2 linked regions of the Homo sapiens genome follow. The protein of the gene in region 1 purifies or fractionates together with the protein of each later gene. This does not show direct contact. Each region holds a gene or a part of one and is shown on either strand. Other genes may lie near its edges.

What was found. The genes of interacting proteins can lie anywhere in the genome.
Region 2: the proteins of MIER1 (region 1) and SIN3B purify together in Homo sapiens (co-immunoprecipitation; one large-scale study listed by IntAct). This does not show direct contact.

The regions. Positions count from the first base shown.
Region 1 is NC_000001.11:66,973,587-66,977,139, reverse strand, and holds part of MIER1 (mesoderm induction early response protein 1), read right to left. Parts: exon of another isoform or gene 1,622-3,553; intron 546-1,621; coding exon 418-545; intron 1-417. UniProt on the Homo sapiens protein: Transcriptional repressor regulating the expression of a number of genes including SP1 target genes. Probably functions through recruitment of HDAC1 a histone deacetylase involved in chromatin silencing.
Region 2 is NC_000019.10:16,867,396-16,871,045, reverse strand, and holds part of SIN3B (paired amphipathic helix protein Sin3b), read right to left. Parts: intron 1,587-3,650; coding exon 971-1,586; intron 1-970.

The sequences.
Region 1 (3,553 bases):
GAGACTACATCTCAAAAAAAAAAAAAGAAGATTAAAACTGTATGTGCTTATACTGAATGGAACTGAATTTAAGAAAAACATGCTTTCACAGCTGTTCTGATCCATTTCTTCTCAACAGTGTATTAAAAATATACATTCTAAATCTTGCTTTAATGATATGCTTGTCTCATACATAATATGAACTGTAGTTTACAATATTTCATAAGACACTGAAAAGTCTAAATGCCTTATTTATGAAGATATAATAGATGGTAAAGTTTAATGTGTATTATAAAAGCAAGATTTTATCACTCTCGGCCTTCTGGTTAAGATCAAGTATATAAAAGCAAGATTATCAAAATAATAATTAACTCAAGAAAAATCTAGAAAAGCTTAGCAAAAATGTATATATAGCTCTTAAGGAAAAAATTAACTCACGTTACACCAGGATGAAGATTATATTTCTTCTTTCCAAATCGTGTTTGCTGAGCAAAGAAATCATAACGTTCAGATTTTTTCCACATGTAATAGAATGCTACACATTCACCAACTGACCTTGTTCGGACCTGTAAGAAACAAATGCTTGCTTTTAAGAATCTCCTTTTTAACAAAGTTACTTCATGATAAACATCTGAAGTTTGAAAATAAATTTGGCTAGTCCTTAACTGAAATATAATCCTATATATAACATACAACAGTGTAGCAGCTATGTTGAAAGCTATTCTTTCTAAACATCTATTAAGAGAAATAATATATTGGCAACAGGTCTTCAGATATACAGCACTGTGCTTTTTAAAATGCTACCATCATCCTAATTTACTAGAAAAATATATTCCTGTATTAAAAATGCTTGGAAGTTGGCCGGGCACGGTGGCTCACGCCTGTAATCCCAGCACTTTGGGAGGCCAAGGGGGGTGGATCACGAGGTCAGGAGTTCAAGACCAGCCTGGCCAAGATGGTGAAACCCCATCTCTACTAAAAATACAAAAATTAGCCGGGCATGGTGGCAGGTGCCTGTAATCCCAGCTACTCGGGAGGCTGAGGCAGGAGAATCACTTGAACCCCAGCAGGGGGTGGGGGTGGGGGCAGAGGCTGCATTAAGCTGAGATCACACCACTGCACTCCCACCTGGGTGACAGAATGAGACTCAGTCTCACACACACACACACAAAAAAAAGGCCTGGAAGTGGCATTCATGTTAAAATAAATGTTATAAACAGTTTGCTAATACTTTTACTCACAGAGTACGGGTACCTAGGGAGCGTATCTTTAAATTCCCTTTTGAAAGATTCTCTTACTAGTCCCAACAGCAACCCAGACTCAGTTAATTTACTCTCTAGAAAGTCTGGGAAGATGCCACAGTGAGTTAAAAGTATCATAATAATGCTAATGCTTTGTTTACTAAGTTACTCTTGCGGCTTACTGTGCTGTACCTATTTGTGCAACTGAATGGCTCCCCTCACATAATGTTAAATGCCTACGGAATTAAATGATGCTGACAGAATTCCTTTTTGTTACTTAGCCGGGAGAACTGGTGGTAGGGTTGATGTATATATATAAAATACTGAGGATTTAGGGCTGATGTATATAAATAAAATACTGATAACTTTTTTCCTTTCTTTTTCTTTTTTTTTTGAGATAGTGTCATGCTCTGTTGCCCAGGCTGGAGTACAGTGGCACCAAACCGCTAACTGCAGCCTTGCCCTCCCAGGCTCAAGCAATCCTCCTGCCTCAGCACCCTCAATAACTGGGACCACAATTGCATGCCACCAAACTCAGGTAATTTTTCTATTTTTTGTAGAGATGGGGTTTTGCCATGTTGCCTAGGCTGTTCTTGAACTCCCAGGCTCAAGCAATCTGCATGCTTCAACCTCCCAAAGTACTGAGATAACAGGCATGAGCCACTGCACCGGCAATACTGACCATTTAAAAGGAAATCCAGTGTCTGTATGTGTTCTGGATGCAATATACTTCTTTATCCCATAAATTTCTGCTCTTGAAGTAAATATTCTGTAGCACTGATTGCACCTAAAGGACAAATGTTGATGATACCCTCCCTTACCCAACATATATTTTGCTTTCTTCCCGTTTGCACTGTACAGCTCTGATCCATATTGCTCTGAGACTGACAGCAATCAGGACTTTAAAAAAAATCATCCTCTCAAGCTGTTTTTTGTCTCCTCTAGGATCTTATTTCTAGATAGATTCGAACTAAGTCAACTGTACTTTACTGAAAGCAAAAAGATAAAGTCATTTTGGGGCATGCAAAGTTAAGATTATGAAAAATCTTCAACAAAAGCCCTCAAAATAGAACTTATGATTAAGATCTGAACTTTAATTCCAGACATAAAAACAAACTCGATATTCTCACTAGAGTACTCGTCTCCCTTTTAAAGAATTACTGTCCTCTTTTTGTGCACTAGAGTAATTTAGTGTATTATGTAGAGGTCAGCTGACTTCTACCTTGTAACATTTAAATGCCACTGTCCCAAATATTTATGAGAAATCAAGGTTATACTTTTAATACTTATGTTACTTGGCTCTAAGTTTCAAGTCACCTATAATTTCTTAACTCCTTTAAAAAAATCATATTGGTCAGGGTTGTTGCTGCTGCTTGTTACATAAGCTATCATTCCAGGGGTCCCTTCCTTAGGTAATTCAGCATGGTTTGGTTAAGAGTGTTTTAATTCAAGCAGAAGTGTTAAAAAACAACAACAACAACAACAAAAAAAAAACCTCATCCAAAAATGTTGTCCCTTTCAACCATGAAACAACGAACTTTTTTCTTTTTTAATCAAAAACATACACGGCCAGTCACATAATGCACTCCTTTTCTTGAATGTTAACTATATTTGAGGTTATCAGATGATATGAACACAACATTAGGGGTATACATTTTTGAAACTAATTACATTGTCTTCTAAGTTATCCTAAATGCTAAAACTAAACATTTCTCTATTAGTGTTATCTGCGGTAAACTGCCAACATTCAACAAAATAATTAAGAATGAACTAATTGGGAGTGGGGCTCTTCACTGCCCAGTTCCCACTTAAAAAAAAAATAATAAAAATAAGAATAAACTAGTTAATGCACGACAAAATTTAAGAAATGAACCCACAGGATTTGTAAATATTTTATTAATAACAAAAAATATTAAATATGTGTCAAAAAAATCAACTGGATACAATCCAATCACATCCAAATGTATAAAAAGAGAGCTGTGGCAGAAGACTATTCAGAGCCTCAGACATAAGCCCAGGTACTTTCAACAAGGTCCTGGACAAGCTACGACACAAAACTTAGAAGCTATCTTTAAGGAATTACATAAACCAATACCCTTGTCATTTCTACTAACTAAAAATAATGTGATAATCATAAGCCTGGGAATTAATTTCCTACATTTAATCTCCAAGACTTTAATTCTGCCTGTCCTAATCTGTTGTCCTAATGTGTTGCTCATGGAAACAACACATTTTTCTATTCTATATAATTATATGGTTACTATTAAAAATCATACCTAATTTCAGTTATAAGAATTAAGCCCCAAAACAAATCTGTAAGTAATTATAAAGCT
Region 2 (3,650 bases), on another chromosome or scaffold:
CCGAGGCTGCCTAATCTGGCCGGCAACCCAGGGATGGCAGCGAGAATGCTGTGGAGGCCAGGCATGGTGGCCCATGCCTGTAATCCCAGCACTTGGGGAGGCTGAGGCAGGCGGATCACCTGAGTTCAGGAGTTTGAGACCAGGTTGGCCAACATGGTGAAATCCTGTCTCTATTAAAAATACAAAAAATTGGGCTGGGCGCGGTGGCTCATGCCTGTAATCCCATCACTTTGGAAGCCCGAGGCAGGTGGATCACAAGGTCAGGAGTTTTAAGACCAGCCTGGTCAAGATGGTGAAACCTCGTCTCCACTAAAAATACAAAAAAAAAATAACCGGACATGGTGGTGGGTGCCTGTAATCCCAGCTACTCAGAGGCTGAGGCAGAGAATTGCTTGAACCTGGGAGGCGGAGGCTGCAGTGAGCCGAGATCATGCCACTGTGCTCCAGGCTGGGCAATAGAGCAAGACTCCATTTCAAAAAAGAAATACAAAAAATGAGCCAGGCATGGTGGTGAGCGCCTGTAATCCCAGCTACTTGGGAGGCTAAGGCAGGAGAATCACTTGAACCTGGGAAGTGGAGGTTGCAGTGGGCCGAGATCCTGCCACTATACTCCAGCCTGCGCAACAGCGCAAGACTCCATCTCAAAAAAAAAAAAAAAGAAAGAAAAAGGGTACTGTGGAGCTGGGCCATGACGGCTCCACGAGAAAGCCCATGAGAAACAAATGTTCCCCAGTCAGGAGAGGGTGCTACACCCAGGACAGGTGCCACGGCCAGGGGAGCCTGGGCGAGGGGTACGTGAGACCTCTGTCTTATGCTGGCAACTTCCTGTTTGCAATTTCCCATTTGAAATCACAGAATTCTCTTAAAATGAAAAGCCAGAAAGAAAAGTAACAGGACATGTCAGATCATGAGCTGTGACCCCTAACCCCAGGCACCCCCCGGGGCCTCCCGGCAGGCTTTGGAGCCTTACTGGGCTGCTTCAGCCGCAGCTCCATGGCGGGGTCGCTGCCCTTCTCCCTGCGGCCCTCACACAGCAGCTTCTCCCGCTCCTTCTCGGTCCGATACTCCAGAAGCTGCTTCTGCGCCTGGCGGTAGATCTTCAGCAGCCTGGAGCACAGGGTCTGGTGCAGGCGCAGGAAGAAGTACCAGTTGTTGTTGGCAAAAAATAGGCTGTAGACATCGTCCAGGGGCTTGTGCGGGGCTGGGGGCGGCAGGGGTGGCTGCTCAGTGGCCGGGGCATCCCCGAAGGCCCCCTTCTCCTCTGGGGGGCTACTGTGGGGTCCTGGCGCCGGCTTCTTCCGCTCACTGGGGTCTGTGGTCTGCCCCTGGGGGCTGTCCCGGTCCTCATCAGCTGACTCCTCGGAGGCGCCCAGGTCCAGCTGCTGAGAGAAGAAGAGGCTGGGCACGAACTGGTGCAGCAGCTGGTGGATGGTGCCCTGGTCCTCCTTCTGGATGGCCGGCTGCCGCTTCACGTAGTAGCTGATGAGCGCTGCTGCGTCCTCCAGGATCTGCCGGTCCTCGTACACAAAGATGAGGTGCGGCTCGCTAGAGGGGGCACTGCGGCCCTCCGAGTGCTGCTCCTGGTGCTGTGGGGGGAAGGGCGGCCATTAGGTGGAAAGCCACCCAGCACCCAGAGGACCCCCAGTGCCCATTCACGACTCGCTGTTAACTGGGCCACCAAGGTGGATGAGCGCTGCCCAGAGCAGGATGGGTGGCGAACATCGGTGAGGCAGCAGGGCCTGGGGGGTAGGTCGCTTGCCTCAACCTCTTGTGCAGCCCCATGTGCTCCTGGTCCCCTCTCCGAAAGTGAGGCAGACCCAAGTCATCCCGGGACCCCAGACAAAGGAGCCAAGAGGATTCTGAGATGTGGGGCGGGGTTCACAGGGGGTCTGACAGCGTCAAGCCTGGGTCTGTCGCTCAGCCCAGCTCCAGGACAGAACGGGGCCCCGTGGCTCAGCATGGAGAAGCCTCTGAGGCTGACCTCCTCCTACTGAAAGCAACGGTGGCGCCTGATTCCAGCTCGACCGGGGCTGCCCACACCATGCTATCGATGAAGTCAAGGAGGCAAAGGGTGAGCCGTGACCTCTCTGCCTCTGCCCTCCATCTACTACCCGGAAGGCCTGCAACTGCTCACATCTGAAGACCTGCACGCCCATCGTCACCAAGCCCCCGCCTCCGCTGCTGTCCCCGCCAGCCCCTGCACGTGCTTGCTACCACCATCATGTCACCAGCCCTCCCACCAGCTCCCACCAGCCTGCTCCAACCACTCTCCTCACTGGGTCCAGGGTGACTTGGCCCACAGGAGCATGGTCACCCCAACTAATGCCCTTCAGGCTTTCCCAGGCTGCTCAGAAGACGCCGGCCCCTGATGTGCCCCTCCACAGCTCCTCCAGCCTCACCGCGCCAAGCTCCCTCCTGCGTGTGCAGGGCCTTTGCACATGCCCATCTGCTCTCACTCCCTGGAAAACCCTGTCCCAGGCTCACCCCTCCCCTTGGTCTTTATCTAGATCATGACTTTCATTCCCTCACACCATTAGACAATCACCCCTTCCTCCAGCCTCCCACACCACTGTCCTGGCACCCAGGGCCTCTGCTGGGCAGCCCCAACCCCCTCAGTCCAAGGCAGGGAGGCAGACGCAGCAGGGCTCTTGGGGAAAATGAGCGTGGATGCCATCTCTGCAGGCTCCCGAGGGAAGGACCGGGTCTCCTAGCAGCCTGAGGTTTCCCTTCCTCCTCCCCTGCAAGGCGGCTTAGAGGCTGGTAGGGCCAAGCACACTGACCTGGTTCCTAGGAGTCTGCACGCTCAGCCCTGCTCTGGGCTCTTCAGTGTGACCATCGCCCTCTGACTGCTTCCTAAGTCCCCCAGGTCTCATTTATGCCATAAACACTCTGAAAATTCCTTTACAGTCCCCTCTGAAGCAGGGTCCCCATGTCCATGATCTGTAACCATGCTTTGTAAATCACGTGATGGAATGGGGTTCTGACTTTGGAATTCATCAAGGACCTGCATGTGCAGAGATCTGCATATGAACCTTGGTGCCCCTCCCTTTGTCAGCCCCAGCCCCAGGGAGGGATCCAGGAACTCAGGGTCGCATTGGTGGATTTCCAGGGCTACTTCATCATCTGCACTTTGCAGACACCACAGACCCACAGAACCTATACGGGGTCTTGGGCTTGAGGATCGCCGAGGACTAGAGTGAGGAAGCCAGAGTGGTTGTGGGTGGGCCTGGGGCGAGGGTGGCCCACGGGAAGGGAGGTGGGAGGGAAGGGGGTCCCCACAGTCCCACAGGCTCTGGGAGAGGCCTTGGGCCAGCAGCCCGGCTCCTGTGGATTCCGTTTCTGTGTTGTAAAAGAAGGAGCGACCGCTCACTGTGCAGTGACAGGAGCAAGAAACCAAATCAGGTGAGGCAACACCCCCTGCCCAGGTGGGCACCAGGCTGATAACGCAGCCCGTGCCATGATCTGGGCACTGCCTGGGGAGTAGTGTGCCCTCCTAAGCCACCTCCTCAGAGTGTCCAAGGACCTTCCCGACAGCTGGCTATCACCACGCCCGGCACCCTGCCAAGCTTCCCACCTCAGGATCCTGCAAGCAGGCACTCCCTACACACAGCTACTAACAGGCCCAGCTCCTGGCAACCTGAGGGCCCCGC